Linked DNA regions of Homo sapiens. The protein of the gene in region 3 purifies or fractionates together with the protein of the main gene of each other region. This does not show direct contact. Each region holds a gene or a part of one and is shown on either strand. Other genes may lie near its edges. The genes, in order: PC, SPTBN1 and CDH2.

Region 1 (3,654 bases), on a different chromosome or scaffold from region 3:
TGTGGGGCAGGGTGCAGCCTTCCAGAGGCTCTGGAGGTGACCGGCCTTTGGCATATCTTCTGAGGAAATCTCTTTCTTTGCATGGAAAAGGCAGTGGGGAGTGAGTGTGGTGTGGACAGGGGAGGAGAGCAACAAAAATGACCTGTTTACCCACAAACCACGGGTAAGTGCCCCTGTGGTCGCAGGGTAAACCCACCCAGGTGGGAGGAAAGGACTGGGGCTCCCTGGAAAAAGCTTGAAACTGCCCTGGAGGTTTGAGAATCTCGGTGCCAGTGGGCTGCTGCCAGCTGTGAGGCTGCTCACCTATAGGCAGGCCAGCAGGTGAGGAGGGGGAGGGTGCTAGGCTCCTGGGAGACACATAGCCAAGTCCTCCCACCCAAGGAGTCGGTGTAGCAGGAGCTCCCTTCGCCTTTTCCTGCGGAGCTCTTCCTGTCCCTTCTGTATATTTCTTCTTTTTTTTCTAATTATAAATAACGCATCCCCAATGGAGAAAATATGGAAATTTTCCATATGGAAATATAGAAAAGCATAAAGAAGGAGGAAAACACAACTCTACAGCAATTCCATAGCACGTGGGAGTGAGGAGGGTGGCATGCAAGCAGTCCTACAGTTGTTGCCATTCCTTTAAAAAAACTTCATGAGATCATGTTGTTTACCATTAAATTTTCTTGGCTTCACATTACATCACAAGCATTTCCCATGTCATCAAAACCTGTGCAAACACATTATTGTTAATGGTTACATAATGTCTGTGGGAGCCAGGGTGTGGAATCTTTAAATTGCTTCTCATGATTTTCTGTTGTAAATAATGCTGCTTTGAACATCTTTCTGCGTACATCTTGGTTCCCATTTTGGAATATTTCCTGGGGTTGGATTTCTGGAATAGTAATGACTGGGCTCAGGGGCATAACCCGCCACCATGCCTAGCTAATTTTTTTGTATTTTTTAGTAGAGATGGGGTTTCACCGTGTTAGCCAGGATGGTCTCCATCTCCTGACCTCGTGATGCACCCGCCCTGGCCTCCCAAAGTGTTGGGATTACAGGCGTCAGCCACTGTGCCCGGCTTTTTTTGTTTTGTTTTGTTTTTGAGATGGAGTCTCGCTCTATCACCCAGGCTGGAATGCAATGGCGCGATCTCGGCTCACTGCAACTTCCGCCTCACAGGCTCAAGCAACTCTCCTGCCTCAGCCTCCCGAGTAGCTGGGACTATAGGCGCCCACTATCATGCTGGGCTAATTTTTGTACTTTTAGTAGAGACGGGGATTCACCATGTTGGCCAGGGTGGTTTTGAATTCGTGACCTCAAATGATCCGCCTGTCTCAGCGTCCCAAAGTGCTGGGATTACAGGCGTGAGCCACCGCGCCTGGCCGGGCATAAATACCTTAAAGGCTCTTGATAAGTTTTGCAAACAGCTTCCCGGAGAAGCTGCCGTGATGCTCAGCAGTGCCTGCGGGCCGCCTCCTGAAGGCCTTCCTGGCGCTCAGCACTGCATTTACAAAGCTCCCAGGCAGGAGTGGCACCTCATGGTTGTATTTTGAATCTCTTGCTTTCTCGTGGGTTCAAGAGCCACTTGTGTTTGCTGTCTTGTTGCTGTGCTTGTCCCGAAGGCTCCCCTCGCCTCTTCCTGACTTTGCCCTATGTGGTAACTTGAGCTCTTTTGACATGGCCTTTCCCAGCGCTCAGCAGAGTAGACATTTGGTGCCCAGGAGGAGGGTGAGATTTACACCCCACACCTGCTCTCTGATGCCAGTGCCGCCTGCTCCCAGCTGGGAAAGACCTGTCCTCCTAGTGGGCAGCATCCGATAACTCGCCTGGAGCAGGGCTTAGAGGATTGTAGATCTGCATGTGGGAGATAGCAGGGTGATAACGTCTGACGTTCATCCTGCTCTGAGCAGGGTGTCTCCACACCTGAGCTCCTCGCTGGTGCTCCCGGCACCTCTTGAGCAGCAGGTGCTGGGGCATGCACTCCCTAAGGTTATCTCCTCCAGCGGCATTAGCGGTGGGTATGGTTCTTTTCACTTGTCAATTTGAAATGATTTCAGACTTTCAGTAAAGTTGCAAGAGTAAGACAAAGAATTCTCGTACCCCTGACCCCAGTTCCCCCAATACTAGCATTTGCTTCATTGTTCCCGTTTTTCCCTGAACCATGTGAGTGGGTGTAAATTGCAGATGTGGTGCTCGTGGACCCTTGAGTTCCTCAGTGTTTTTCCCTAAGAATGAGGCTGTTCTCTAACATAACCACAGTCCACTGATCAAGATCAGGAAATTGATATCAACGCAATCCTCTTTCAAACCTGCAGACCTTATTTAAATTGTATCGTTGTCCCCTGATGTCCTCTTAGCAATAGAAACCCGGATCCAATCCAGGATCGTGTGTGGCTCTCACCATTGTTGCTTTGGTCTCCTTTCATCTGAAACCGTTCTTGCGTCTTTGTCTCTCACGACCTTTGACATGTTTGAAGAGTCCAAGCCAGTTATTCTGTGGAATTTCCCTGAATTTGAGTTTGCCCCTTGCTTTCTCCTGATTAAATTCAGGCCGTGCACGGCAGCGGGAACCCCATCAGGAGGTGTGTGGTATCCCTTCGGTGCTAGTGATATTAACCTTCATCTCTCGGTCAGCGTGGTGTCCGCCAGGTTTCTCCACTGTGCAATGAATAAGGACAAGGTATATTTTAGAAAGAGGAGGAGCCCAGAGTCCAGCAAGGTTACTCTACCCACGTTCACCATAGCCGGGTGTGACCTGGGTGCCTCCTGGTCACCGCAGTGGCCCCTTCCCAGCCCCCATCTTACCCTGCCTCTGGGAGTCATGCTCTGCCCAACTCGCGCCCCATCCTCCTGAGAGCCGCTCGCTTCTGCCCAGCGACCCGTGCGTCCCTCCCTCCTCCAGGCATCCCCCCTGGGCTCCTTCTTGGCTCTTCCTCCTCGGCCAGACTCAACTCCAGTGGGCCTGAAGACGCAGGCCTGACCCACTTCTCCCAGGCTGTTCTCTCCCTGGCTTCAGACACCACCGCCCCTGTGATGCTGCCCAGGTTCTTGTCCCTGCTCTTCCCCCTCTGTGAGCTTGCCTCACTCCCAGCCCTGCCTTTTCTGTCTTGCCCTTCTTATAGCAGGAAAAGTCATCTCCACCCACCCATACAGGATTTCTTCCTCTACCTTGCTTTCTATGGGGGGTCTCTCGACGAATCTTGTCTGTCATAGCCCAGATGTTTCCTAAGCCCCACCCCGACCCCCATAGCTTCCCCCTGTCAGAGGCTCCGCGTCTCTCAGCTCAGCCTCTGAATTGCCCCAGACATGCGTCGTCTGTCAGCCCCTGCTGCTCGCCAGTCCAGAGAGATCCTTTCCACTGTGCATCGATCATGTCCCTCCTGTCCTGTCCATGGCTGAAGGGAGGCCTCAACCACTGGGCCCTGTCTGTGGCTGCAGCCCCACCTCAGGCCGTGGGCTCACACTTCCCTCTCTCAGGACAGCACCAAGCCTGTTCTTCCTGAGAACTTCACAATTGCTATCCCTTCTTCCTGGAGCTTTCTCTGCGGATCTGTGCGTGGCCGACTTCTCCCCATCCAGGTCCCAGCTTCTGTGTCCCCTCCTCAGAGAGGCCTTTTCTAATATCCAGCCCCCAAACCCCTGCACCCGCCCCAGATCATTCGCAAAATG
Region 2 (3,654 bases), on a different chromosome or scaffold from region 3:
GAAGACTTAGATGAAATCATAGTGGGGGTTAAAACATGGCACATGCCATCACTCGCTTCTGTTCCTGGCAGACATCGAAAATCAGTAATGGTACTCTTTTTCCACTGAGCTGAGATAGTCTCAGTCATATTCTCGACATGGTGTTCTAGGCAGTAACTACCACTCGATTAAATCTGGCATTCAGTTTTTAAGCTCCTGTACACTTCTAAATTCTGTGATTATAAGATACTTGAGAAACTCATCACCTTGGCAGTGTTCAGAATACAGTGAGACTGGAAGAAACTAGAAGCAAGGAGACAGGAGAGAGGTGACTGGGGGTCCAGAAGTAAAGGGAGCAAGTTACAGTGGTGGCCAAGGGAACAAGGAGAGGAGAGATGGGAAAATGGTTGTGAAGGCCCAATCCTATGCGAAGCTATTTGTAGGGTAAATGGATGGCAGGATGGATGGGAGGTGGACCTAGTGGGTGACGAGCTAAGCTAAGGTGATAAAGATTTCAAATTTGAATAATGACAATGAGCATGTTTGGTGATGATGACAAATAGACAAGTCAAGTGCATGATTGGATATTTGATTGGGAAGAGTATCAGTTTTGCTTTAAACATGTTTGAGTTTGAGGTTCCAGCACAATCCTCAGTGGAGCTGGAGAGAGGTCATGGCTAGAGAGGCTGATGGGAGGCTTTGGATGGAGGGGCCCTGGGCCCCAGGCTTCAGGCTCTTTACACAACCCACCCACCTCGCTCACACGCTAAGTGACCTTGGGCAAACTGCCTAGACTTCTTTGTGTCCCTCAACATCTTCATCTGTAAAATAGTCGTAATGAGAGTATCTACCACATAGGATTATTAAAGCCAAATGAGGTAATTCAGCGCTTATCACAATAAATTTTAATGATTATAAAATGTGGAATTTTTGCTTAGTTTGACTTAATATTATGCTTTCTTTCAAATAAACAGTTTGATTTGTTTAGAAAAGGTATATTCTAGCAAATAACAATCATTTAGATAAATAATGCTAAGTTCCATCTGTATTAAACCTGTTCCTATACATCATGTCAAAATAATAGGAAAGGAAAATCTGATTTATATATATGTATTTTTTAAACAAACAATAAAATGCTAAAGCCTTAGTAGCTAAGGAAATGATATGAGCAGATAGTTTATAAAAGAAGAAATCAAGGAGGTCGATAACTGTAAGTTCAAACTCACCAGTGTATGAAATACAGACTAAATTAATTAATTTTTCCACTTAATGGATAGATATTATGCTCTGGGCTGCTGTGAGATGGGAGCTCTGCATCACCTGTTGAGAGCATATTTTGATTAATACAAACTTAGGGGAAAACAGTTGGGTTATATATATGTAACAGAAGCCTTAAATGCTTATACCTCTTGAACTGAAATCTCACATGTAGCTTGGTAACCTACAAAAACAATTAAAAATAAGGACAAGTTTTTAAACAAGGATTTTCTTGGCAACATTAATAGAGAAAAGGGGAAATGTTTTTTAATGGAACATAATCAAATAAATTATGGCGCAACTGTAGGGTGGAATTCAATGTAGTGCTTAAAATAATGGTTTGGAAGAATATTACTGAGATGGGAAGATGCCGGTAATACAGGGGTTAGTGGAAATATCTGGATGCAAAATTGTATAGTGTACTATAATCCTGGTTTTACTGTATTAAGTAAAAGACTGGAAGGAAATACATTAAAATGTTAATGGTTTGCTTTGGATGGTAGGTTGATGGGTGATTTCCTCTCTTGTATGAAAGGAAATTCCCATGACTTAATGTTTCTCTTTTTGAGTTTTGAAATATTTCACGGTAGAGAAGAATGCAGTAAATAATATAATAGATGACCATGAGGACCATTTGTTTTGGTTTGTTTGAGGAACTTTTTTTTGTTTTATTTTGTTTTCTTTTGTTTTGTTTGAGACAGAGTCTTATTCTGTTGCCCAGGCTGGAGTGCATTGGCACGAACATGGCTCACTGCAGCCTTGACCTCCTGGGTTCAAGCAGTCCTCCTGCCTCAGCCTCCCAAGTAGTTGCAGGCGTGTACCACCACACAGGGCTAATTTTTAAACCTTAAATTTTTTTATAGAGACGAGGTTTCACCGTGTTGCCCAGGCTGGTCTTCAACTCCTGAACTCAAGTGATCTGCCTGCCTTGGCCTCCCAAAGTGTTGGGATTACAAATGTGAGCCACCGTGCCCAGCCTTGGGCACCATTTTTTAATAATCAAAAAAGCAATCAACACTTTAAAAATTCTAATTTTTAAAAAGGAAAGAAAAAAGTAAATCTGTCCAATTGTAGATCATTATTAAGAAATAGTTTTAAATCCAGCGATTGTTATATCTGTCCTTCTTTGCAGTTTTCTAAGAGCAATGATACAGTGTGTAAGTTAGCATCTTAAGGGTATAGGTGTGAGATAAATTAGTGTATTCAAATGTATTAATTCTCTACACTAACCTAGGCAGCTTGAAAAGAGCAGAGGACCAGGGTTCTTTGGTATTTCCAGTCTCCACACTTGAGTGCAGAGCAGTGGAATTCCATGACGTGCATGTTCTCACTCGTGGAAACCTAAACACTGCTACTGGAGCTAGTTTGTAACCATTAGACCATCAGGTTTCAGTGGAATTGGTCAGAAATGAAGGTAAAATTCCAAGTGAACATTTTAAAATAAAAATCACTTCAGATTTAGATTTACTTTCAGTGAATGGTATCTCAGCATCTGGGAATATTGTAGGCTAAGATTGAGAGGAACTAATTTTAATATTCTTCGTTTTTTGTATGAAAAGAAATTCCTGTGCAATGTTATATTTTTGTATATATACATATATGATGCATACATATCATGTTTATCTCATATATATATATATATATATATATATATATCTCACACATGGGAGAGAGAGGTGTGTGTTTGATTGAGTAATCTCTACCACGAAGGGAGGCACATATTTTAAAACATTTTAAATGGGGAATTTTATAGAGACAGTATTTTGAAAAGGAGTCCCATGAATGAGTCAAGTTGTCCTTAGCCAGTGGAGGAAATGTTTGGGAGGGAATAGTACTTTCTATTTTATGGTCCAAGTCTCTAAGTGTGTTGGTACTTTGTGAAATGTAGCTTATAAAAATTAATGAATTTCCATTAATTTTGTATTTTTTCTGCCATCAGCTTTAACTGAGTGGTTGTTTGAAGAAGCTTTCAGGATTAATTGTGCTTTGACATATAAAAATAAGATGTTATCAAGATTGCTTTAAAACTGACCCTTGTTTATAGGAGTCATACGTCCATTCTTAAGAAACTCTCAACTGTGACAGTAAACATCTGAGTGATTTTTAGAACCATTTTAATATCTCTGCTCTAGAATCGAGAATGCCCTGTTAGTTCTGATTTTTAATATACAAATTTGAAGCCACTAGTTAGGCAGTAAAATATGTATTAGAACATAACTATAGATTTTTACCCAATAGATCAATTAGTATGAAATTTAGGATGATATATAAGTACAACAGAATTTATTCCTTTGAGGTATGTATTTTCAAAGTGTAATTTGTGTAATTAAGTATGTTTATTCTTCGAGACCATCCTGGCTAACACGGTGAAACCCCGTCTCTACTAAAAATACAAAAAATTAGCCGGGCGTGGTAGCG
Region 3 (3,654 bases):
ATTCAAAGGACTCTGTGCCTTGAATTGTTAACTGAAGTGTCTGTGTACCTTATTTTACTTAGAGAAATTACTAGTTTAGTTAGTCTTGTTATGTAGATTTACATAATTCTAGTCAATCTTGCATGTTATGATGTTCAACATCAAGATTTTCTTTAGTCTTATTTTAAGATGTTAGCCTTTTTTATATTAAAAAATCCGAATTTGAGCATTCAGCTTACCTGATAAAAGTATAAAATATTATATCACAAAGTTATAACTAGCTTTCCTTTTAAATAATACAAGTGACTTTCAAATCTTTACATAGGTTTATTGTTAAGAAAAAAAATCAATGTTGCTTTTACCATTGACCTAGTTAATTAATATATTAGAAACCTGTGTTGTTTTTCTAGTTCACATCTTAATTGCATAACCCCATTGTTCTAATTTAAATACGTTTGTATGGGTTATGGGGCATCTAGGACAGTATTTTAATGTTCATAGAAATTCATTTCTAAGACTTAACAGATCCTGGTTTCAACCCTGCGTGAGGACCTTGGAAAAACGATGGATAAACCTTATGTGTTTTTCACCTATTAGGTACAGATTTTAAAGAAATTAATATTCAACATATGAAGTATACATAAAAAGAAGCAGCTTTGTTCTAGAATGTGGCAAGGATTCAGCAGTGATTTTAAGTGTAAATCGTGTTTATTCTCAGTATTTATTTGATTTTCATGTGCTTTTGAAACATAAGTTCTTGTGAAAATAAGAAGAGTTAACTTGGTGTTCAGAGTTTACTTACTAGACACAGTTATGTATATTTCTTTGCTTTTCTTAACTTGAGGCATGCGGTCATTACTAATAGGTGAAAGGTTACAAACATACTAGGTGTAATTTGAAAAACAGTATTTTATGTATCCTCACTTGTTTTTAAAACACTATATATTAAACCATAGGTACTTTCTGACTTTTATACTTTCATCAAAGTCTGCCCTAACCTTCTAAAAGTTCAGACTGAGATTTTACAAGGAAATACTTTTTAGATATTTCTTGCTTTTTACATGTAGAGACTAAAATCTTTCTGGAGCAGATTATTTTCATGATGGTATAGAGCACCAAACTGTCCTTAATTTTCTTTTTCATTAACAATTTCAATTCTTAAATCTGTTGTGCCTCATTAAGCTTTAGGGTTATTAATAGGGAAATGTCAAGACTTAAAGCAACAGTTAATCTTGCTTTAAATCCTATTTTTTTTAATCCTAAGTGATTAAAATCCCCATCTTCTTTTCAAGGGGTTATTATGAAGTTAGAAGAGTGATTTTTAAAAATCAGAGCTGTTATTTAAGAAGTGTTGTGTTCGTATATACACTACCATTTTTCCCAGGTTAACATTCAGATTTGTTCTTTTGGCTCAAATACAAAAAAGTAATCAAGTTTAGGCACTGCTTAGATTTGGTGGTGGTTTTTGTCAGCCATTTAAAAATGTGATAGATTTTTAAATTTGGATTTTGTCATCTGAATAAGTATTTCGCTCTGACAGCAGTATACTTGCTAGAACCTAAGTATTTTCAAGTTAAGAGTTTTAAGTTGAAACATAATTGGTACCAACAAATCACTGTGTCTCACATTTCTGTTTTTTTCTACTAAAATTTTATTTTTATTTTAATTTTTCAGAAAAAGACATCAGTTAATTTGAGCAGATGCTAGTCTTTGTATTTAACTAAATACATGTAAGTTTTAATTAAACAACCTTATCCATGCCAAGGAAGAGGTATATACATATTAATGTTTTAGTAAGAGCTATATCTTCTGCATGTATGAAGTGATAGGTCTAAAGTAGGCAGAACAAGGTGAATTCACAAGCTAAATGGGACTTTTTGAAAGATGTAGATTTAAACATTATGATTTATGTTATAATAGTCTCTTTAAGGAAAATTTAGATTAAATTCTGCTTAGATTTTTATTCCTTGTCGCTCACTCTTTGGTACTCAGTGCACTTCCTCATCTGCTTCCAACTGTACTTACAGCCCCCAAGCCCTTGGATTGCATACACACACGCACACACACACACACACACACACACACCCCAAATGTATGTTGAGGACTGCTATATACATATGAGTCTCCTGCAACACTGAGTACAGTCTGATATGAAGTGTCAATCAATAATTGATTGATTACTTTATGTCATGAAAGGTGGTTTAGGCACCAACAGTATAATAACTGATCTGTGTAAGTGAATGCCCTTGTGTAGTGTCAAGGGCAAGAGCTAGTGTCCAGGGCAGGAAGCATGGGGTTCTGATTTCGTCCAGATGTAGTCTACTCTCTTAAAGTCCCGTGACCTCATTTTCCTCAACAATAAAATCTTGGGCCTAGTTGGATTAGTTGATCTCTAAGAGACTGTCCAGTTGCATGATTCCTGGGGCTACTTAAAAAATATCTCAAACACATCTCCTTTTCGAAGGTTGTGGAAAGGCTTTTTTCAGCCGAAAATGTAAGAATTTTCAGATACTTGGAGTGATAGAATGTGAGTTTTGAAGATTTATTAACCGTAGTTTATCGTGATAGGTTTAAAGTCATCTATATTTTTTATATGCCTGAATTTTAAACTTAAAATTTTCTTCATTGGCTGTGCTACCTTTGCCAGTAAAAGTAAACAATTTTGGGGAGGGGTTTAGGCTTAAAGGAAGGTAAGTGTAATATTACTGAGAATAAAAATTATTTTTAGGCTTAAAATGAAGGTAAGTGTAATATTACTGAGAAAATTTTTTTTATTAGTTTTATGAGCTCATGTTTCTTTGAGAGAAGATAGCCTTCAGGAGAGCCATTGAATTGAGTGATAGGGGGTCAACATTAAAAATATAAGTGGGTCAGCATTAAAAATACAGCTCTAGCCCTTTGTCAAGTTTTCCTCTAGCTTTTTTTTTTTTTTTTTTAAAGACAGTCTCGCTCTGTCAGGCTGGAGTGCAGTGGCACAGTCTTGGCTCAACTACATCCTCCGTCTCCCGGGCTCAAGGAATTCTCCTGCCTCAGCCTCCTGTGTAGCTGGGATTACGTGTGCCACCATGCCCAGCTAATTTTTGTATATTTAGTAGAGATGAGGTTTCACCATGTTGGCAAGGCTGGTCTCGACTCGAACTCCTGACTTCAGGGAATCCGCCTGCCTCGGCCTCCCGAAGTGCTCGGATTACAGACACGAGCCACTGCTCCTGGCCTCCTCTAGTTTTTTTTTTTTTTTGGTACAGGTATGCATGTATTTATGACAAACACATGGTATAGATACATATACGAAGATATTTATTGAAGCATTGCTTATGATTACGAAAGATTGGATTATTTGATCTCTAAAAGTCCATGAGTAAGAAATGATTTAAGAAATTATGGCATAATGTTAAGCTAAATTTAATAACCCCTGCTGTAGGGAACAAAACATTTTCTACTAGTTCAGGTTCAAGAAAGCGATTGTTAAGCCACCTCATGTTTTGGGAATAGTCATGAACCTAAAAAAGCTACAGAGGGCCAGGCATGGTGGCTGATGCCTGTAATCCCAGCACTTTGGGAGGCCAAGGCAGGTGGATCACGAGGTTAGGAGATCAAGACCATCCTGCCTAACACGGTGAAACCCTGTCTCTACTAAAAATACAAAAAATTAGCTGGGCATGATGGTAGGCACCC

What was found.
Region 1: the proteins of CDH2 (region 3) and PC fractionate together in Homo sapiens (co-fractionation; one large-scale study listed by BioGRID). This does not show direct contact.
Region 2: the proteins of CDH2 (region 3) and SPTBN1 fractionate together in Homo sapiens (co-fractionation; one large-scale study listed by BioGRID). This does not show direct contact.

What each region holds. Positions count from the first base shown.
Region 1 is NC_000011.10:66,874,819-66,878,472, reverse strand, and holds part of PC (pyruvate carboxylase, mitochondrial precursor), read left to right. Parts: exon of another isoform or gene 1-163; intron 164-3,654. UniProt on the Homo sapiens protein: Pyruvate carboxylase catalyzes a 2-step reaction, involving the ATP-dependent carboxylation of the covalently attached biotin in the first step and the transfer of the carboxyl group to pyruvate in the second.
Region 2 is NC_000002.12:54,462,778-54,466,431, forward strand, and holds part of SPTBN1 (spectrin beta chain, non-erythrocytic 1), read left to right. Parts: intron 1-3,654. UniProt on the Homo sapiens protein: Fodrin, which seems to be involved in secretion, interacts with calmodulin in a calcium-dependent manner and is thus candidate for the calcium-dependent movement of the cytoskeleton at the membrane.
Region 3 is NC_000018.10:28,170,487-28,174,140, reverse strand, and holds part of CDH2 (cadherin-2 isoform 1 preproprotein), read left to right. Parts: intron 1-3,654. UniProt on the Homo sapiens protein: Calcium-dependent cell adhesion protein; preferentially mediates homotypic cell-cell adhesion by dimerization with a CDH2 chain from another cell. Cadherins may thus contribute to the sorting of heterogeneous cell types.